3 linked regions of the Homo sapiens genome follow. The protein of the gene in region 2 interacts with the protein of the main gene of each other region in a pairwise test. Each region holds a gene or a part of one and is shown on either strand. Other genes may lie near its edges.

What was found.
Region 1: the proteins of ARC (region 2) and SH2D4A interact in binary tests that used the Homo sapiens proteins (3 or more experiments, as listed by UniProt).
Region 3: the proteins of ARC (region 2) and TBX18 interact in binary tests that used the Homo sapiens proteins (3 or more experiments, as listed by UniProt).

What each region holds. Positions count from the first base shown.
Region 1 is NC_000008.11:19,316,685-19,323,706, reverse strand, and holds part of SH2D4A (SH2 domain-containing protein 4A), read right to left. Parts: intron 4,364-7,022; 5' UTR 4,160-4,363; coding exon 3,979-4,159; intron 1-3,978. UniProt on the Homo sapiens protein: Inhibits estrogen-induced cell proliferation by competing with PLCG for binding to ESR1, blocking the effect of estrogen on PLCG and repressing estrogen-induced proliferation. May play a role in T-cell development and function.
Region 2 is NC_000008.11:142,611,480-142,619,248, forward strand, and holds the start of ARC (activity-regulated cytoskeleton-associated protein), read right to left. Parts: upstream 3,001-7,769; 5' UTR 2,793-3,000; coding exon 1,602-2,792; 3' UTR 1,005-1,601; intron 774-1,004; 3' UTR 629-773; exon of another isoform or gene 379-628; 3' UTR 1-378.
Region 3 is NC_000006.12:84,761,585-84,768,890, reverse strand, and holds the start of TBX18 (T-box transcription factor TBX18), read left to right. Parts: upstream 1-4,292; 5' UTR 4,293-4,709; coding exon 4,710-5,001; intron 5,002-6,142; coding exon 6,143-6,347; intron 6,348-6,404; exon of another isoform or gene 6,405-6,550; intron 6,551-7,306. UniProt on the Homo sapiens protein: Acts as a transcriptional repressor involved in developmental processes of a variety of tissues and organs, including the heart and coronary vessels, the ureter and the vertebral column.

The sequences.
Region 1 (7,022 bases), about 120 Mb from region 2:
TAGCCACATTAAAAAAATCAAAAGGAGGCCGGGTGCCCTGGCTCACACCTGTAATCCCAGCCCTTCGGAAGGCCGAGGCAGGTGGATCACCTAAGGTCAGGAATTTGAGACCAGCCTAGCCAACATGGTGAAACCCCATCTCTACTAATAATACAAAAATTAGCTGGGTGTGCTGGCGCACACCTGTAACTCCAACTACTTGGGAGGCTGAGAAAGGAGAATCGCTAGAATTTAGGAGGCAGAGGTTGCAGTGAGCTGAGATCATGCCTCTGTACTCCAACCTGGGAGACAGAGCAAGAGACTCTGTCTCAAAAAAAAAAAAAAATCAAAAGGAACAGGTGAAATTAAGTATTTTACTTTACCCAAGATATACAAAATATCATCAGTTCCATATATAAGGAATATACAATTATTAATGTGGCATTATCTTTTCCTTCTACCAAGTCTTTGAAATCCGGTAGTTTACATGTATAGCACACCTCAATCCAGACTAGCCTCATTTCCTGTGCTCAAGAGCCACATGTGGCTTGTGGTGACTGCACTGGACGGTGCGGCTGTAGACCTCTAGCTACCCCAGCAAGCAGAGTAGATCCATACGTCTCTCCCTAAGTATCACATTCTCCCACTACAGAAATCAGAAATGATCTTCTCATATAGTACTAAGTTAAATTCACATGCTGATAGTTTTTCAGCCCCTTCTACTTCAGCCTTCAGATTACTAACAAGTAGACAAGTCGGGCACGGTGGGTCATGCGTGTAATCCCAGCACTTTGGGAGGCGGAGGTGGGTGGATCACTTGAGGTCAGGAGTTCAAGACCAGGCTGGCCAACATGGTGAAACCCTGTCTCTACTGAAAATACAAAAATTAGCTGGGCATGGTAGCAGGTGCTTATAATCCCAGCTAGTCACTCAGGAGGCTGAGGCAGGAGAATCGCTTGAACCTGGGAGGCAGAGGTTGCAGTGAGTTGAAATGTCACACCACTGCACTGCAGCTAGGGAGACAGAGGTTGCAGTGAGTTGAAATCTCACACCACTGCACTGCAGCTTGGGAGACAGAGCAAGACTCTGTCTTTAAAAAAAAAAAAAAAAAAAAAGAATAATAGACAAGTTTCTGTGATGCACAATACACAACAATTTTAGTGATGATCCCCAAACACTAAGCACAGGGGTCTGTGTATTCGTAGTGAAAAATGACCAGATGACAATGAAGGAACTTCTAAGTGATAAGCTAGAGGGGGTCAAGGAATGGCAGGGGTGGCCTATGATGTTTTTAATGAAATGAACAACCTTCAAAACCACCGTGTGGCTAAGAACTGCTAAGAAAAAGCAGCACTTAGCTCAGTACTAACCAGAAAGGCGGGAGAAGGGGAGGCAGGGAGCACAAGCCTTCAGGGATCAGATGCACGAGTGACCTGTCAACCCACAAGGGTCATGGGCTTAGCAGGTCTGCAGCACAGATAAGCACCTCTGGCAGCACCAGCCATGACAGCATTGCTTTGGACGGTCTATGGCTTTATCTTCAAAGACAGCGCAAGATGAAAGAGAAGTGATGGGATTTTAGGGGAAGTGGGAGTAACTTTTTCCCTTTCTGTAGTCAGAAGAGGAACTAATTTAATGCAAAATATATTTTTCCAAGTTTTCAATTTAAGGGAGTAATACACTTTTGACGTGAGATATTGATAGAACTTTCCCCACTTATATTAACATACTTTTCTCATGATCATTTGACTAACAAAGTTAACACAGGGTTTCTGAGAGGTAGATTCAAAACCCTACAAGCGAGAAATGTAAGCAAAGAAACTGAAATTATTATTTTAAGTCATCACAAGGAGACCAATTCAGCAAACACGAGAAACCCAAAGTCTAACAGAGTCTGGGCCATTGACTCTAGTGGCAAGAACCCTTTGGCTGCTAGTCCCCAAGGTCACCCCATCACACTAATATATGTTATGTTCACAGTGAACATGGTGCCCAGAAGAGACCCAATTATATCTGAAAAACTCTGACTGGGGAATCCAAGAAGGTGCATAAACCAGTTTAGAAAGAAAAAGAGTTATGTTTCAGTTTGGCCATGTTATTTGTTGGAGGAAAAGTTGTATTTTGGATAGTGCAGAATAATGTAAAATCCAACAGAACTGGGCATCTATTGGTGGTATAACCTTGCATATATTACTCAACTTATCTAAGTTTCATGGCCAGCTTCAGTGGCTCAGGCCTGTAATCCCAGCACTTTGGGAGGCCCAGGTGGGCAGATCGTTTGAGGTCTGGGGTTCAAGACCAGCCTGGCCAACATGGAGAAACCCCACCTCTACTAAAAATTCAAAAATTAGCTGGGTGTGGTGGCACATGCCTGTAATCCCAGCTACTTGGGAGGCTGAGGCAGGAGAATTGCTTGAACCCGGGAGACGAAGGTTGCATTGAGCCAAGATTGTACCACTGCACTCCAACCAGGGCGACAGAGTGAGACTCCATCTCAAACAAACAAACAAGCAAAAAAAAAAATGAACTTCTCTAAGTCTCATCATCTGTAAAACAGGACTGTCACTGCTGACTTTGCAGAAGTTTTGTGAAGGTTAGGCATTATATGCATAAATGTGCTTCACATAGTGTCTGAAACAGGAGGTGTTTCATAAATAGTTGTATTGATCATAACAAGAGGAAATGACATATTTCTGTTTATTTCCTTGTCATGATAAAGGCATCACTGGAAAAAAGTTTTAATAAAAGACAGTAAAAAGTAAAGGACGCTACACTGACCTCCTTTGTGAACCTGGGCATATACCAGGGATGCAAGAGAGATTCATTTTCTCAATCTTTGAAACCATATGTGATTTTACAAAATTTTATTTTCCTGGTTTAATGAAACATGAAAAGAGACGGTCTTAGATGCCTCTGCAAGTGACCTTGAAAAGTGTGCTGTGTTTTCACAACTTTGGTATTCACCCATGACAGACTTCGCATGTAAACAGCAAGGCGGGGGTGTGGGGGTTAGTGAGAACGGAGTGAGGAGGGTGGACAATGTGTATTTTTCTGTGTCTGTATGTGTATATGCTTTAAGTCTTTTTTTTTTTTTTTTTTTTTTTGACACACAGTCTCACTCTGTCACCCAGGGTGGAGTGCAGAGGTGTGATTTCAGTTCAGTGTGGCCTCGATCTCCTGAGCTCAAGCAATTACACCACCTCAGCCTCCCAAGTAGTTGGGACTATAGGCATGTACCACCATGCCCAGCTAATTTTTTATTTTTCCTAAAGAAAAGGTCTCACTATATTTCCAGGCTGGTCAGAACTCCTGGACTCAAGTGATCCTCCTACCTCGGCCACCCAAAGTGCTGCAATGACAGGCATGAGCCACTGCACCTTGTCTGCTTTAAGTCTTAATGTACAAAGATTTCCTCCCCCATGGTCTCAAAAGAACCCTCTCAAACTACCAGAGATTCCTTTGATAACGAGGAAAAGTTTACATCTGAGAAACTCATTCACACTAAAAAAAGATAGTATTATGATTTTTTTCCTTATAGCAATTCCTTACATTTTAACAGGAGGTGTTCCCTAAAAAGATACCTCAAAGAAAAATCTCTGAGGTCTAAGAAATGCAAACACAATTGCTATAAATATACTGACACAAGAACTTTGTGTTCTAGTAGTAGCATATTAGGAACCAGTAACAATAAAGGAGATAGAAACCTTTCTTAATACCCCTCAAATCAAACCTCATAGGTGACTTTTTAATACAGCTTCAGGTTAGTCTGGTTTCAAGTAAAAGATTTCCTCATAGCTATGCAACTCCATGGTGAATGCTGTGTGTGTGTGTGTAGACTTCAGGTGGACATACTGCACTATTAGATTCTCAATAACATTTAGGATTCATCTGCCAAACTGGAACTTGCACCTGCTTTGCTTGTGACTAGTGTGAAATTGTCAAAGCAAGCCAGGAGCTGTTCTACCAACACATCCACAGAAGAAACGTGGATAAGTTTACCTTTCTTTGGTCTGGGTTTCACTGGCAGGGACTCCTTTCTTTCCATAGCTGCTTCTCTTTCTTTCCATCGTCGGATCTGTTCCTCTCTCATCTTGAAGAACAGGATCTGTTTCTGTTCTTCGCTGAGCTCTGCCAGTAGATCAGGATCTATGTACATCTCCGACAGTATCTGTTTCAGCATCTTTGCACTTCTGAAGTCTTTTATACTTGTGGCAAAAGTTCCTGAAACTGGCCTCCAGGTGTCCCTCCACCTGTGCTGGCACTTGGGCGTTTCCACGAAACTTCCCAAACAGCTCACAATCCTGGCTGACTGGGACAATAATTCAGCAAACTGGCTACTCAGACCTGGCACCAAATGTCCTGTCCAAAATGCTGTTCACTGAACCTGCAGAGAGAAAGAGCCCACATTCAGGCAGCGTGTTAAAATGTGTGGACACTGGCTAGGACGGGTTTAAAAAAAAAAGCTAGGAGGAAACACAGTATCACTTTTCAGTTCAGAGAGAAAAGAGAAGAAGAAAATCTGAGGCACACTTTGTTAAGAGTTTGTATAACCTCTATCCTGTAATTTCTAAAGATACTCTGTCAAAAAAAAAAAGAAAACAAACCCTAACTTTATACAGGTCAATCTCAGGCAAACAAAAAAAGTTCACAGAGGTTTGTCCAGCTCCCAACTAAGCAAACACATTATTACCCCAGAGCCTAACAAACCACCAACTGTGTGGCTGAAAAAAGAAAGAAAAAAAAAAGTCACAGGAAGAAATTAAAAGGCTCTCTGCAAAGTACCTATTTCAAAAGAAAATACCACTTTTGATATGTCACAGAGTAACTCATCCCAAACCAAACCAAAATAGAGCCATGCTCAAGGAAGAAAAAGGAAGAAATAAAAACTAGACCACCATGCATTTTCTGCAATTTCCCTAAAAAGTAGCATTAAATAAACAAAATTATGTACTTTCCTCTTCACAAAAGGATAATGTAATTTCCAGATAACCTACTAGAGCCATGAAAATCAGGGCAGGTGCAAGAGAGAACATCCATCTACATTCTGGAAGGTCACCGAGTTTTAGGTGTGCTTTTTCCAGATAACCTAGTTTAATAAAATCTAAATGGACAGACCAGATAAACTAGGGGGATGAAGAGGTCATTAGGTTCATAACAAAGGATCCTTCATTTATATGACTTTACCGCATGGCTCCTTGAAAGAGAAACCATAAAGCGAGAGTGCACAGTGGCCTCCTAGAAGTTCTCCTGTGGTTGGAAATCCTACTGAGGTTTCATTCTACTTTCCACATTTCTATTTTAAAATATTGGCTTAAAAATATTACCACACTGTCATACTTTCTCTCTCTATTTTTAAACAATTTCTAAGTCCCATAAACCATCATACTTTTGTAATCAGCAGGAAACTATGTAAATATATCTATTCTGGAAAACAAAAGACTTTGGATTCGATGTAATAAGATATAAGAAAAAAAACTTACTACAACTTTTCAGAATCACATGTGTCCTAAGAAATTGACCAATAGGCCAGGCGGGGTGGCTCACGCCTGTAATCCCAGCACTTTGGGAGGCCAAAGAGGGGGGATCACGAGGTCAGGAGTTCGAGACCAGTCTGACCAGTATGACCAACATCTCTACTAAAAAAACAAAAAATACAGAAATTAGCTGGGCATGGTGGTGGGTGCCTGTAATCCCAGCTACTCAAGAGGCTGAGACAGGAGATCGCTTGAACCTAGGACGCAGAGGTTGCAGTGAGCCGAGATCGCGCCACTACACTCCAGCCTGGGCAACAGAGGGAGACTCTGTCTCAAAAATAAAAAAAGAAAAAAAAAAGAAATTGACCAATAATTTGTTATTTATAATAACACCTCAATAATCTTACCACCTTGCCATGTGCTCTCAAATACGTTGTTTCTCCATACTATGTTCAAACAGTCTTAAACTTCAGACAAGTCACTTAGCTATATTATGACCATCGTAGTGTTGTTGGTTTCTCTTCGTTCACCTTGTCATTGATACAGTTAGATTTGTAATGCCCCTCTCACCATCTGGGGGCCTCCTTCAGCTTCCCGTCTTCCTCCTCTTCCGTGCAAAGTAGTTCCTTGATTTACACCTGTCTTTTGAGACAAGCACGCTCAACAGCTAGGCTACCACAGAGTGGTGTGCATACTCAGCTCTTAGATTCGCTGACTGTTCATTGTGAAGCCAGGCCCTTGATGAAACTACACCTATCCCTACTGACTGCAACCTATCATCTCGGCAGCATTCAACTACCAGAATCCAAATGGAACCAAACATTAAGAGAAAAATTTTAAAGGACTAAAAGTAATATCACGCCCTTCCCAGATCCACTTGCCAACTTTGTATTTTGCATTGAGATACCCTTAAAGGCTTGAACAGCCAAAAAAAAAAAAAAAAAAAAAAATGGATGTCTTGTCAAGATTTCTTGACTTTTGACTTTTTGTTTCTAGCAGCTTCTCAAAGGGTGGAGCCAATGAAATCCACAAGCTCCAAGATAAAGTGGTAAGAAAGGAGACAGAATGACTCCTTGACATTCCAGTAAATGTCCTTAAGTTCAATGGTTGGTTTTCGCAGAAATCACACACGGCAGAAGATGAACAGTTCAGCTGGGGTTGAGACTTCTGCTGTGTTCCCCATTTTGAATGCAGCGAATCCTATTCAAGGCATGGGTAGATCCTAGAATCTAAAACCCTTAAAGTGTCAAAGTCATATTCCTCCAGTCTCCCCCGCCCTGCATATTCCTGATAACACAGCTAACACTTCTTGTACCAGGCACCATCTTAATTAAGCACTCTACATGTGTTAACTCACTTAATCTTCACAATAACCCTTGGAGTCCAGCCCATCACTATGCCCATCTCACAGATTAGGAAGATAGAGCACAGGTCAGCAGCTGGTAAGCGGCAGAGCCGGGCAGTCCAGCTCTAACTCAGCTTCACTGTAATACACAACACAGAGGCCTTTTTGTGAGTTTATTTGTGTGCCCAGAATCAGAACAGCAGGATGTGGTGCCATGTATGAAA
Region 2 (7,769 bases):
TGCAGCTGAGCTCAGGGCTGCTGGGCAGGGGTAGGAGCTGTGGCCCCAGCCTTGGGGCTCATGAAAGCCTCTGGCAGAGAGGATGGCCTGGCAGCGGGCGGGGTTTCCCTGCTGGGAGGGAGGCAGGGCCCGACTCCTGCTGCAGTGGCTCTGGGGACGGGCAGCTGGCGGCCAGCGGGGCGGGCTTAGTGGCAGGCCCTGGTCCTCGCGCTGGCGCTCAGGGCTAAGCTGGGGCTCCTGCCCTCTGCTGCAGCCGACTCCTCTCTGTAGCCCCCCTCTGGGCTGTCCTGGGACTTCGCCTCCCACGCAGGCAGCCTGCAAGGTGAGGGGTGGGTGGTGCCCAGCACAGCAGCAAAGACTTTGTGGGAACCTTGAGACCTGAAAGAACAGGAGAGTGGGCAGTGAAGGACCACGCAGGACAGTAGCCAGGGCTCCATGGGGAGGGGCTGGGGCCGGTGGATGGCGCTGGTCTTCCAAGGCAGAGGCCCCCCGACCCCGTCAGAGCCTCCCAGCGAGCCCGAACACTGGGGAGTGGCCTGGGCCGCAGGGTGTCTGGGGTCTGGGGAGGAGCTCATTTGGCCGGGACAGCTGATGGTGGGGTCTGGGTGGAAGGGTGGTGCTCCGTTACCTGTTGTCACTCTCCTGGCTCTGATGGTGCCAGCTGCTGCCTCAGCCGGATTTGAGGACTCAGCCCCTCTGGGACCCTCCGCCTGCCATGGGTGAGTCATGAGCTGAGCTCTGATTCTTCTCCAGGCGGGCGTGAATCACTGGAGCTGGGGGAGAGAAAGCGCGGGTCCATGTGAGAGCTGGCTCAGCAAACTGCCCCTGCCTCCCACCCGGCCCACTCTCCCCAATGCCCCCTTCCATGATGCCAGCCCCACCCCATCCCTTTGGCTAACTTGCTGGGGGCCCAAGCCTCAGTGGGCTCTCCTAGAAAACAGCCTCCGGATCCCGCCAGCTCTCAGATGCCCCACAGCCGGTACTGCCTTGGGGCAGGGGCTCACCTGAGGGGCCAGGAAGCACCGGGACATCAGGTCTGCTCTGCTGCGTGTGCGACTTCTACTCTCCCCTGGGAGGAGGGGGCCGCGCTGCCCGAGGCTGGCCAGCTGCCCTGGGAGGCAGGGAGGGCGTCAGCTGGCTCTGCGGATGCCGGGAGAGGGCGGCGGCGCCGGAAGTCGAGGCTCCCTCAGCATTGGCTCTGCCCTAGCTTCTGCTCTGGGTGTCCCATGAGCTTGGTGGCCGCTGGCCCCTGCCATCCGGACACTTGGTTTTCTGGATGTCCAGAGGGCCTGGGTGTTGTAGCAGAATGAGGAAGCTGGGGTGTTCTGTGATGGCCTGAGAGTGTGGAGGGTGGGGTCCAGGCCGGAAAGACAGACGGAGGGAGGGTGATGGGTGGAGCCCTGCAGGGGGGAGGGCTCTTTGCCGCTGGGTGCGGTGCTCACATCTGGATGACACGAGTGTGTGCGAGTCCGCCCGGAGCTCGAGGGGGCACCCAGCTGGACCAGGGCTTCCCCTGCAGGAGTCAGCCCCAGCTCAAAAGTCCTGGTGGGCAAAGCCACAGGCTGGATGTAGTGGGCAGGCTGGGGGCTCCGGGATGCCCTCTACTCGGGCTGGGTCCGGTCACTGGCCACGGACTCGCTGTTGGGGGCGGGCGTGAGGGTCTCCGCCTCATCCTCCACCGGGAGGTGGGGGCCGGCCGGCTCGGCCGCCTGCTCCAGGTCATCCTGCACCTCCATGCCCCTCTGGATGAGCTGCTCCAGGGTCTTGGGCAGGGGGTGGCGCAGGAAACGCTTGAGCTTGGGCTGCAGGGTGCCCACCACGTACTGGATGATCTCCTCCTCGTCCGCGTCCACGTAGAGCGTCTGGTACAGGTCCCGCTTGCGCCACAGGAACTGGTCCAGCGGCTCGCCCTGCTTCTGCGGCAGGTCCAGCTCGCGCTGGATGGCCTCTCGGGACAGCGTGCCCTCGCTGTACTGCAGGAACTCCTTCTTGAACTCCACCCAGTTCTTCACGGAGCCCTGCTTGAACTCCCACCACTTCTTGGCCGGCCCGTTCATGTGATTCTGGATCTGGGACAGCCAGTACTCCTCAGAGCCGCCCACCTGCCGCAAGTACTCCTCTAGGTGGCTCAGGAACTCTCGAGGGTCCTCGAAGATCTGCGTGTCCACGCCGGGGCTGGGCTGCCCGTCCTCGCCGGGGACCCACGGCTGGTACTGCTGGGCCTCGGCGGGCTCCTGCCCGGGCAGCTCGCCAGCGGCTGGGGGCGGGGTGATGGCGTAGGGGCTGACGGTGTAGTCGTAGCCGTCTGCCTCGTGGCAGTAGCTCTCGGGACCCCCCACGCCCACGGAAACGGTGTGGCGGGCTGACTCGCTGCCCACCGGGTACTTGCCGCCCGTGGACTCCAGGCGGTCGGCCCAGCGCTCCAGGCGGTAGAACACCTCGCGCCACACGTGCATCTCGCGCTTGACCCAGCGCTCCAGGTTGGCGATGGTCTCCTGGCAGCGGCACAGGCAGGCCTTGATGGACTTCTTCCAGCGCTGCGAGTCGCTCGTGGGCACGTAGCCGTCCAGGTTGCTCTCCAGCTTCCCGACCGACCGGTGCAGCCCCTTCAGCTCGCGCTCCACCTGCTTGGACACCTCGGCCAGCAGGTGCCGGTGCGTCCGCCGCACGTGCTCCAGCATCTCGGCCCGGCACTTCCCGATCTGCAGGATCACGTTGGGCTTGGCCACCTGCCCGCCCCGCGGCCCGGGGTAGGCGTGGAGCCCGCCGCTGGTCCGGTGGTCCAGCTCCATCTGTGCGCAGGTGCTCCGGCAGGCGGCAAACTCCTCGGGGCGGACAGAGGGTGGTCCGGCGCTGGGGTCCGGCGGCCTGGGTCCCGTGCGGAGCTGCGGGGAGCGCCTGTCTGTCGCTGCGGGCCGGCGGCGGGGCCGGCGGAGCACGCCCGGGGAGGCAGGTCCGGCTCGGCTGCTGCGGAGGGAGGACGCCGCGCCCGAGCTCTGCGCTGAGTCCTGGCCGCCGGCTCTTTATGCAGCCAGCGAGGCCCGTGGGCGGCCGGCTCGCCGAGCCCGGTTTCTCATTGGCCCAGCCGCAGGCTCCCCGCCAGCGCCCCGCCCGCGCCCCTGCAGGCCCCGCCCTGCGCCCACTCGGCTCCCGGGCGGCAAGGGACGGGAGGTCCCACCCCCTGCACACATGGCGGGGCCAGGATGACTAATCCCTCCGCTCCGTACCTCCCACCCCGGACGGCGGGGCTCATTCAGCCTGCGGGGACCGAGGGACTGAGCCGGGCACTGGGCGCCCCTCCCACGCCCCCTCCCGGGCGCTGGGCGGGCTGTCATCTGCTGCCTCCCAGGGTCCCAAGGTGGCCTTCCTCCTCTCCACTCGCCTCTCTCTTTGCGGGGCTGGAGGGGGCTGGCGCTGGCCACTGCTCTCCTGGGTCCTCACTGCCCCTGACCCCGCCCACCCAGCTCTGCAGGATGTGCAGCTGAGCCCGGGAAGGACCCTCACCATCAGCCTCTGTGCCCAGGGGCTCAGCAAGTCTCCATGTGAGCTCCCAGATGTGGCTTTGAGCTCCCACTCACTCCTGCCCGGGTCCTGAGTCCAGGTCTTGGGCTCTGTGTGAGGGACGCACAGCCAGGCAGAGGCTCGCTCTGCCTGGCCCTGGCGTTGGTGTGCATGGGTGACAGGGGCCCACGTGGCAGTGACTGGACAGGGCTGCCCCATGCCCCCATACGCAGGTCTCTGGTGAGGCCCAATACTTTTCTGTGTTTCCAGGGAAATCTGGCAGCTGCTACCTGGGGGGCTGGGGTTTGGAGGACATGGAGGGGACATTTAGCCCCCAGTGAAGGGAATTGGGCCCTGAAGACCCTGGCTATATCAAGAACCTGGCCAGAGGCTCCAAGACTTCTAAGGGGATGGAAGAGGGGAGGAGAGAGGGAGACAGGGAGGGAGGTGGAAGGAGGGAAAGGAGAAGGGGAGGGAGGAGAGGCGAGGAGGGAGAGGGAGGGGGGCCGGTGCTGGCAGCACAGTGCCATCAGGAGAGGCAGAGGGAAGCCAAGCACCATATAAGGAGCGGGGCTCCGGAAGCCGAGACTCCCTCGGGAGGGAGGTCCCTTCTGCCTCCCTGGCAACCTGGCGGGGGTAGGGACGCCCTTCCTGAGTTACTCCAGTGCTGGCTGGATAGGCATGGGTCTCAGGTCCTCTGATGTTACCCAGGCAGGGGTGACACACACCATTCCCCACAGCCAGAGGGCCATGAGGACATCATCGCTGACAATCAAGACATCTTGTTCCTGCTGCCAGCTGCCCTTTCCCTCTCTCAGACACACACATGCTGCACACTCACACCCCCACATACACACTCATAGCCCCCACTCTAACCCCACCCCACACACTCATGCCCTCACTCACAGCCCCCACACACACTCATACCCCCCACTCATAGCTCCCACATACACACTCATACCCCCCACTCATAGCTCCCACATACACACTCATACCCCCCACTCACAGCCCTCAGCTCCCCCCAGCATCCCCTGTCTTATTCAGGCACTCAAGGGCACACAGGTGCCCACTTGCTGGAATCCCCCCTCCCTGCCAACCCTCTGAGCCCCCCCCCAACCGGCTCTCCCGGGGAGCCCTCTCCCAGCCTCAGAGCCAGTCTGTCTCCTCCTTCCTTCCGCCCCTGGGGGGGAATGTCTTTCTGGCAAAAAAACTCCCCAAAAATGGCTCTCCTGGCATTTCTAATTAAAGGTAAGTGGGCGGACAGAGAAGGGAGGGCGGAGGGGCACCGCGGAGCTGGGAGGGGGAGCCAGGCAGAGAAGTCTCCAGCACAGGGACCTTCCCGCTTCTCCACTGCGGAATCCCAGGGAGAGGAGCTGGGTGGGCACATGCGGGACGGGCAGACGCCAGCAGCCTTGGGTGAGTGCAGCCAGCGGTCACCGAGGGCCACATGTCCGGGTTGGGGCCAGCCTGAGCCTGTAGGTGTTGTCTGGGTGCTGGGCACTGACCGTGCATGTGTGTCCATTGTGAGAGCCAGCACTTCAATGACCAGGGGCCAGCCCCGCCAGGGTTTACAAGCCCGTGTGGCCTCTGACGTCCCCGCCAGGGCACAGCTCTTAGGCCTCTGGCCAGCAGTGGCCTCCAGCTGCCACCCCCACCCAAGGCATCAGCAAGCTGACAAGGAGGCAGGACTGGGGACACGTGAGCCAAGGTCATAGGTGGTGCCGCTGCCTCAGTTCCCTCACCTGTGTGGAGGGAGCCAGGCCTGGAGAAGGGTGAGTGCCCAAGGTGGCCCGGTGAGCAAGGCAGGGCTGGGCAGGAGCCAGGCCCTTGGTGAGGAATCCTGGCGTCCTCTGCTCAATGCCCCGTGGCCCATCACCACCCCTGTCACCTGCTAAACAGCAAGCCAGAAGTGGCCAAGCCGAGACCGGTGGGAGAGCACAGTGCCTGCCCTGGATGGCACGAGGGCAGGCAGCGTCGGGGGTGCCACGCGGAGCCCCGTCTTCCCCTCCCCAACCCCCTCCAGCAGGGTCTGCAGAGGCTGTGAATGCAGGCCTGAGCTGACCGGTGACAGGCAACAGCCGCAGCTGCCAGGAACGCTTAATCGCTGCCCAATTATCGCCCCAGAAGCCCTCACCAAACCCCCGCACTGCAGCCTCGGGAAAGGAGGCCAGGCTGACTCCCATCCACCTGGGGCGGGGGCCTCTCCTGACAGGGGCCTGCCCTGCTCCTCTCTCCAGCCCACCCCCACCCCGTGCCCGTCCCTGACAGCCACTGGAGCAGCATGGCTTGGGGATGCAGGTGGGGGAAGGAACAGGGGAAGGGGGTGGGGGCTAGACCTGCACAAGGAGATTGGGAGCACCTGGGGGATCCCCACTCTCAAAGCCAACCTGGTCTGCTGCTGCGCAGGTCTGACCACTCTGAGGCCCCACCTGCCTGAGAGGAGGGGTCCTGCAGGGGAGGGTGGGGTAGCCCATGACCCCCAGGTTCTGTTCACGGTTGAGATCTCCACCAGGCTCACGACAGCCTCGAAGGACCTCTTAGTGCTGGTTCCTGAGCCCCCACCACCTAGGTTCCCAGAGGCGTGCGGGTACCTGCTCTGAAAGGCAGGGGCCACCCTGTGCCTTGGGCCTCCCTTCTCCTTCTGGGGTGCCCAGCCGCCTCTGCTCCTGCCTGATCAGAGCAAAGGGAGTCAGCTCTCTCCCCGCAGCCCCAGACTGTCTCAGCCCTGGCTGACCCACTCCGGCAGGGCCTTTCTGGGTTGCCAGGAGCGTTCACAGGGCAGCTGCTGACCTGGGGCATCCTGCTGCTCCCCCAGGCTGGCCCTGCTGATCTCGGGTGCCGGCAGTTAGCGCTGCTCAGCAGGGAGAGGCAACCACAGGCCCCTTCAGGCCAGAGCTCACACCCACCCCCACTCACACACATGCGCAAACACATGGGCACACGCAGAGGCACACACCTCCCCCATCTCCCCTGCCTCCAGGCTCTGTCCTCTTTGGAAACAACCCAGAGGGCCCCCAACTCTGCCTTGGCCCCCCACATCACTGTCTTCATAAAGGCCCTTCCTCACCTGCCCACTGCTGGCCACACACACCTGCCCACCCCACCCTTTGCACACATTCCGGGGCTCCTGCTGCCCTTCTGTGTGGGCTGCGTGGAGTGAGGAGCCGGCAGCAGAGAAGGAATGAGGCAGTCCCAGGGGTTGGTTCGGGCACCCGCCCCCCACATGTGACCACTCCCCAGCCTTGTGGCCTCATCTGTCACCATCTACTGCCCGGTGGGGCTGGAAGAGAAGAACCAGGCTGCCCTATGCCCTCAGGGTGCCCATTGCTTGCCCAGGCTGCATGGCCAGACCTGGAGGCCAGCCTCTCAGCCACCTGCTCCCACCGGGTGTCCCTTGCTGTCCAGCCCAGGGCTCCACAGGCTGCAGGAGCTGCTGACCTCTGACCTCGCTGGGCTCCCAGGCTGGACTCCCACCCCAGGTATCCTCTTTTCCTGTTGCCTCTTCCTCGCAGGCACAGGGCAAGGCTGTCCCAGCTGCCTGGCCTGGCTGAGTCCCTGCACCACCCTACAGGTGGTGCCCATAGGTGAACACCTGAGTGTAAGCAGGGCCTGGTCCAGAGCAGACACTGGCGAGGGGTCTGAGGGCTGGAATGGTTCCTGTTCCATTCCTTTCTAGTCAGGAAACATTGGACAGTTGCTCACCTGAGCCTCAGCTTTCCATCCGTAAAGTGGGTGGCAATGCCAAGGCCTCGAGGGGTGGCCGGGAGCTCCGGGGCTCCAGGAGCCTCATCCCTGGCCTCGTGCCACCTGGTCTGGCGAGGTTTCTCCCAGCCGTTCCTGCCGGAGCCTCTCGTCAGTGCCAGTCTGGAGCCTGAGAAGTGGCCGGGGCCCCGCCCTCAGCTCCTCAGGAGAGGTTCTGGGGGCTTCTTCGCCCTGCCCACCTCCTCTGTTCTCTGAGGCCTGGCCAGCGTCCGCCCCCAGTGTCGCTCCTGCAGTGGTGGCACAGACCTGGTGGCGAGTTGCAGGGGCAGTTGGCGGATATGGGTCCAGGCAGCTGGAGGACACCAGGGCCCTGCTGTCTCCGTCCTGAGGGCCACCTGCAGTGGGGACGGGCCAGGGTAGGCAGAGAGCAGAGCTGAGGATGAGGGTCCCAGTCCACCTCCAGAGCATGGGGGGGTGCACAGCAGGCCAGGACTGAGCCTGGGGAAAAGACCAAGGAGGCACAAAGGACTGAGGTGGGAAAGTAGAGGGGCAGAGGAGAGGCCGGG
Region 3 (7,306 bases), on a different chromosome or scaffold from region 2:
GAGGAATTGCAGCTCCGGATCGCTTTGTTCACGGGGCCTGGGTTTGCATCTGCAGCACCAGACCCGGCAGAGAAATCCGCAAGAGTGCAGTCCTTGAGCCCTGGGACGCCTGAATTTACTACCGTAGGCTTTATAAACTTGTACAAGATAAAATATTTTCATTAACGCAGATCCGAAGGAGAGGCGAGAAGAAAAGTATGTGCAAAGAGAAGAAAGAGAGTGGGAAAGAGTAGGGACAGGAATCGCGGAAAGGGGAAGCCCTAGCCCATTTGTGCGGCGCTGCCTGGTGACTCAGCGTAGGCTGATGTTCACGGTCTCCAATTAGGCTATGGCTCCTTCCCAGATTAAACTATAGAGGAACGCAGCCAAATAAGTACCCCTCTTGGTGTTTGGATTTGGCCGTTGCCCACCCATACTCTCCGTCCCATTTCTGCTTCTAGCTCACTTCATCTTTTACTAATAATAAACTTCTCTATGTGTGGCAAAGAAGTCTGGGTCCGGATTATTTGGAGACTCGGGGACCATTTGATGTGCCCTGAGATCAGGGGCAAAGAACAGATTCTTGTCTGAACAGACTCAGGGCTTACCTTATCGAGTCTGAGAAATTAAATATAGGGGTTAAATACAGCGAGTGTCAAGTGTAAAAGAAAAAAAATCAATCTTTCGAAGGAATGAAGACCGGACGCATAGAGCTTTAACAATTATAACTTAAAAAAGAAACAATTGTTTATAAATAAAATGTAAGTATCTTATAAATCAGGTAAGATGAAATAGCAAACTATACACAACTGGCCATGTATCAATGCTATGTAAACAGGCTCCAGGCTAAAAAGCAGAGTGGAAGCCGACAGAGAATGAGTTTAAAACAACAACAACAAAAAAGCACTATTTCGGAACTGTCCAATTTTAAACTGCACCAAGAAAAATAAAGAAGAGACCGGATATGCTTTTTAAAAGTCCATCTCCCGCCCCTGCACGCCCCCTCCCACCAGTTAGTGTTGCTGTCCGGCAGGACATGGATTCCACTGTATATCGTTGTCCCAGATCTGGGAGCTCAAGGATCTTTTGCCCTTCTCTCTCTCCCCAAGTCCTTGAGACTAATTCATTCTGACAATATTCTCCTCTGGCTGACTTTTATTTAACATAGAATCCGGCTGGTCTTGAGAGAGGCCTGACAGTTTATTTCAGTTTTGTTTCCTCAATGTAGCTCAATACTGGGAAAAGACATTTTAATCTCCTAAAGCAACAGAAGACACACATTCTCAGGTACTTAGACCCCAACTGCCAACAGACACATTTACACTTGAGCAGGTGCACATGCTCACGCACACATGCAAACACAGACACGTGCACACGCGCGACCGGACATTGCGATTACGCGCCCTGTCCCCGCTTTCTTTGCTCTCTTGACTTGCAAAGTGCGAGGGCCTGGCGCTCTCCTCGAAAGGGCATGCCGCGCTGTTGGTAAAAGGCCTTGCTAGGACGAGGCTTTGCTGTCACTCGTCACTCTCAAGGCTGCCACTCCGCCCAGCCAACTCGGAATGTCTTTCCCTCCCATGCCCAAGAGAGATTCGACGCCCCTTCTCCAGGAGCCGAGGTTGGAGTGGGCTGCAGTCTGTGACACACTGCCCCTCGGGACCTGGGTTAGCTGGTCCTGCCCAATCCAGTAGCCTGAGCCGAACTTAACGCAAGTTGGAGGCGGCGGCAGCAGTGGTGCGGCTCTACTGCTATGATTCTCCTTAGCCAGTAGCAGGACTAGGGGGCAAACGCCTTGTCCTGTCCTCGGCGCCCTACTCACACTTGAATTATTTCTAAGGGCCACGTTCTAGAAACATCGTGGATGTAGACGAGGCTCTGCTTTCCAGCCTTTCGGCAATGCGGACACCAGTCCCCGGGTTTCCCCGCCTGCTGGGGTCTGCTGCCCAGGGTGAAGGCGAAAGACATAAAGAAATGGCAGAGGAAAAGAAGAGGGCGTGAGGCTGTATGATCCCGAGAGCGCCTTGCAGGCCTGTGTATCCCTTTCTAAATCAGTTTGAGCTGCAGGACATATACAGGGAGAACTCCTTTGCGGAACAGGCTTTGCGTCAGCAAACAGTGTTTGTCCCTGGCAGTTTCTCCCAGGGTAGGGGCTCCCACTACCCCTGCTGAGCCCCAGCAGGCCCGAGGGCTCCGACGACTACACCCCTGGGCAGCAGCAGAGTCTCCAAAGCTGTAAGGACCGCTCGGAGAAGCACCGGGTAGCTCCCTTCTTGGGGTCCCCGAGAGCCTGGGATTGGGGCGGGGCACCTCAGCTGAACGGAACTTCTTCTGGCGTCTACTCCAGCTAAGTTAGCTCCCGCCTTGTCCCACTCCCACTCCCGGCCCAAACTCTCTAGGCGGCCTCTTAGCTCTCCCTGCCGGCGCCTGCCTTCGGCTAAGCTTCAGAAATGGGATTTGCGCTTCTTTTTAATGATGTAATACCGGCCTAGGGTACCCCGGAGCTTGGAGACCCACTAGGGACCACACAGCTCTAAACCGGTCGCAAAGCCTTCATTTTGTAAAATGCAAAACACCTCCTCCCAACTGAGTTTGTTTCTCAGGCGTCTAAAAGAGGCTTCCTCCGCAAGGATATTACAAAATCATTTTTGACCTCAAGGCTGCCAGGTTTGGCTGGGCGGCTTGCTCGTGCCTCTGCTCATCGCCTGCCAGGTTCCTACTCCCGCTGTGGTGTCCGGCCTCCAGGAACCGCGCGTTCTCTTCTACAATAAAAGGATCAGTCTCAGTGGCGGATCTACCCCCAAATGCTACTCTACTGAAAGTTTACAGAGAAGTCAGAGATAAAAGGGCAGCCAACGGTTGCGGAGATTGAATTAAACGAGGGACGAGGGAGAGGAAAAAATTCCTTTGTCATATATATATATATATATATACACACACACACATATGGAGACAGAGAGAGAGACAGAGACGGAGTCTTGCTGCGTCGCCAGGCTGGAGTACAGTAGCGCGATCTGGGCTCACTGCAACCTCCGCCTCCCGAGTTCAAGCGATTCTCCTGCCTCAGCCTCCCGAGTAGCTGGGACTACAGGCGTGCACCACCACGCCCAGCTACTATTTGTATTTATTTATTTATTTAGTAGAGACGGGGGTTTCACCATGTTGGCCAGGATGGTCTCGATCTCTTGACCTCGTGATCCGCCCGCGTAGGCCTCTCAAAGTGCTGGGAATACAGGCGTGAGCCACCGCGCCCGGCCTGCCGTGTATTTTATACAAAAGATGGAGTAATATGCACGATTAATTTTATTCCACAAGAGATTTGCTCTATTTATACCAAACATATATATATATATTTGTTAATCCTAACAAAAAGTCGAGTTGAAACTACAAAACAAATTGTACAAATATATATGTTTGGTGTCATTTAATTAAAAAGCACTGATTTTATTAAATTTGTTTTAAATACATCAATGGACTCCTTAAAAGCCTGAAGTAACGATTGTAAATTGTCAACAGTAGGACAAATATAAACTTACTTAAATCACAGAGAAGTTTTTCAAATGGGGAATTTTATTGCGTCTTCATACTTATTTCATTTTGCGAAGTTTTAAGGGGTTTTAAAGTTGTCCATATCGTTAAAGACGTACAGAATGAAAATCCCATGACCTACGTTTTAAAATAACTACCACTCTTTGAAAGAAAAGGTGGGCTGCGGAAAGGGCGTGCTTTTTCTGACATTTATATGACGGACTGAGCGTTAACGTAACATTTTGCACTCCTAAAGGATTTACATATTTCTTAACCTGGTATCCCCTAAGAAAAAAATCACGGAGTAAAGTTTAAATAAGCCTAAGCCATATCTGGCGCAGACTGAGTGCAGGAACATTTAAATGAGAAAGGAGGGGCCTGCGAATTCTTCCCAGCTTCCCAATATTCTGAGTTGTAGCAACATTAAGCGATACGGAAGTGGGACGGCAATTTACGGAACCTTGAAAGATTCCTGATTTTCTAACTTGTTGAACGTCTAGTTTAAAGCCGGGAACTTCCGCCTTTCCAGGTCCTGGTGAGGAAAGCTGGAGACTACGGGGCTGGACTCAGCTACGGACGTCAGAGAGACAGAGTTCAGCGTCCGTGTGGCTGGCACATCCAAGCCAGACAGCGGCGCTTTTCACTCCTGGTTTTTCGCTACCTTGTAAGGAAGTGGGCGCGGGCTGCGCGGAGTCGGCGCCTCCTGATTGGCCGGCCGTCTGGGTGATGGACAGGGACCCGGGCTCCGCCCCCGCCGCTTTATTGACACTAATGAGCAAGTTCTTCCCACCGCTCTCCTGCCTGGAAGTGCTGACAGATCAAGGCAACAAATTTCAATTACAATCCCTAATTTGTGTCCACAGAGTGTTTTTTACCCATGTTAGTCCTCTCTGGCGCATCAGTTGAGGCAGACCTCGGAGCAGCAGGAGGAGGTGGAAGGGGTGGGAGCAAAGGAGTGCATCAGTGAGAGAGCGCGCGAGAGAGACCCAGGAAAGGAGACTTGGCCGGCGCGTCGCCGGTTCCTGGATCCCAACACAAGCGAGAAAGCGGAAACGCCAAATCTGTTTTTTGCCCGCGGTGGGGAAGGGGGCAGATCTCGGGAGGCCCCGAGAGCCTTTTAGTTTTTGGTGGGGGAAGAGCGAGAGCGCGCGTGTGCCCGCGTGAGTGTATATGAGAGAGGGGCGGGCGGGCGCGGGGCGGGGGGGATGGCCGAGAAGCGAAGGGGCTCGCCGTGCAGCATGCTAAGCCTCAAGGCGCACGCTTTCTCGGTGGAGGCGCTGATCGGCGCCGAGAAGCAGCAACAGCTTCAGAAGAAGCGGCGAAAACTGGGCGCCGAAGAGGCGGCGGGGGCCGTGGACGACGGAGGCTGCAGCCGCGGCGGCGGCGCGGGCGAAAAGGGTTCTTCTGAGGGAGACGAAGGCGCTGCGCTCCCGCCGCCGGCTGGGGCGACGTCTGGGCCGGCTCGGAGTGGCGCAGACCTGGAGCGCGGAGCCGCGGGTGAGTGGGCCCCTTCCTGCCTATAACTTCTCTCCGGCGCGAACCTGAACTTCTGCGAGTCTGTGGGTGTGCGTGCGCGCCGCGTCCCTACATGGCCAAGGCCACTCAGCCACTAGCGCATTGGCCGTGTCAGTCGCAAAGCTCGCCGCGCAACCTGGTCACCCTCCAGACGGTTCAGATACTGCTTCCAGGCTCGCCTCGCGGGCGGCCGCCGCCCACTCGGCGACCCGCGCCTTCGGCCGCGGCTGTTTGCTGCGCCTAGCGGTGCAGCTCTGTGCTTCCTGCATCTGCCTCCCTTGGGGTTCCAGCCAATGGGTGCTCTTTTTTGTTTCCTAACTTTTAAAAGCACAGGGCGGGGAGGAGGGGAGCGACGGCATACCCCACCCTGAAACCGGAACGAATGCCCTAAACCGTTTGTGCAAACCAGGAAGAGGGCGGCATATTTGGAAACTTGGTTTCCCGAAGGGTAGTTGAGCGGTTCCCTTCCCTTCTCCTCTTGATTTCTCTGCCAAGGCCGACGGCGACCGCGGGCTTGCTTTTCACACTTTTCTCTGCTGGGCTGGAAGCGCAGGGCGCCGGGAGTTTGGCGAAAGCGGGGTCTGAAGAGCCTTCTAGAAGATGCCTCCGGCCCGGCCCAAAAGAAGGCCCAAAGCGAGGCGCCGCAGACGCTTATGGCTTAAGGAGGCCCAGGCTCTTGGGACCAGAGTCCGGGCGCTTTTGCTGCTTGCGCTTCGAGGCGCAGGTTGCGTCGGAGTTTGCACTGGGGACTCTGGACCCGGGAGCTCCTCTGACTCCGTCGGGCAAGCGTCCCAGACCCCGGCGGCGGCGTGAAGCCTTTTCTGCTGGGGCCTTGGCCCTGCGGAGGCCCAGCGGGTGGGGTGGACGCTGCCCGCGCGCCTCTCCCGGGCTTGGGACTTGGGGACCAAGCAGGCCACACTGGAGCTCTGAATGCGCCCCTTCGACAGGCAGAATGTGGGTGTCTATCGACTGGCTTGTTCTTTAGGAGGACCTGATGGCACCAAAGCTTCCCCTTTTCTCCCGGTCATTTTCCTCTTCTCAGCCACCAGGTGGGCCCGTCTCCGCGGCTGGCTTCCCCTCTGTTTCCCTCACCAGTTCCCTTTCTCTGTCCTTTGCTGTCCAGGCGGCTGTGAGGACGGCTTCCAGCAGGGAGCTTCCCCTCTGGCGTCACCGGGAGGCTCCCCCAAGGGGTCTCCGGCGCGCTCCCTGGCCCGGCCCGGGACCCCTCTGCCCTCGCCGCAGGCCCCGCGGGTGGATCTGCAGGGAGCCGAGCTCTGGAAGCGCTTTCATGAGATAGGCACTGAGATGATCATCACCAAGGCCGGCAGGTAATGGGCAAGCTGGCGTGGACGCCCCTCCCTACCCCAGACCCTGTCTTCACTCACCTCTAGCTCAATCAGGAAGAAGGGCCTGCAGCTCGGTGGGGGTTCTGGATAGCATTTTCGGTCAAACGGGACCAGGCCCCAGACCGTGGTTCACTTTGGAGGCTAGCTTTGGCTACCCACCACTAGTGCAGTCGGTGCACAGTCCAACTGCCCTCTGGTTGAATGCCAGGGAGAAAATTACTGTCGCCGCTGATGCCACAGCTGTCGCGGTTGATGTTCTGCGTTCAGGGCGGTTATAAATTTGAGGTCATATTTACCCTTGTCCAGGTATTTATTTAGGCTCTAGTTGTCAGTTCTGGAACTAGGAAACATTCTTTTTTTTTTCCTTTCTCTTTTATTTTTAAACAGCAGTTTACTCCAGTAAACTATGATTTGCTTTTTCAGATTTGAAACTCCCAGGCAGATTGGTTCTTTATCAGAAGATATCCTGGCAATTTGATAAGATGATCTGTCCTGCTATTTCATATTAGACTAGGAGGAAAAGTCACTGGACTCACCCACAATACATGTTTAATCATGTATAGGTGCAAGAATAATTACCCTGATTTTTAAAAAGCATCCTGTTTATAGATTTAGAGTACCTGGTTATTTATTTATTTATTTTTGTCCTAAATGGAATCCAACACAGCCTGAATTTGCTGAGGAATACTTAAAAATTTTTTATAAAAAGGTACATCGGTTTTTTAAAAAGTGTGAAATTTTCCCATCCATTGGTTAGTAAAATAAATGGATTTGTTGGGCAGATCATATTAATTTGAGGTAGGCACATGAATATTTGCATTTTAAAGTTTTCAGTTTATTTAGTGCAGTGAAATCTATGAATAATAAGCTTCCTTAAACGGAACTTTAGAAAGCACACACAACTCTTTCAGGGAGTACACATGGTAAAAACCTGGATAGCA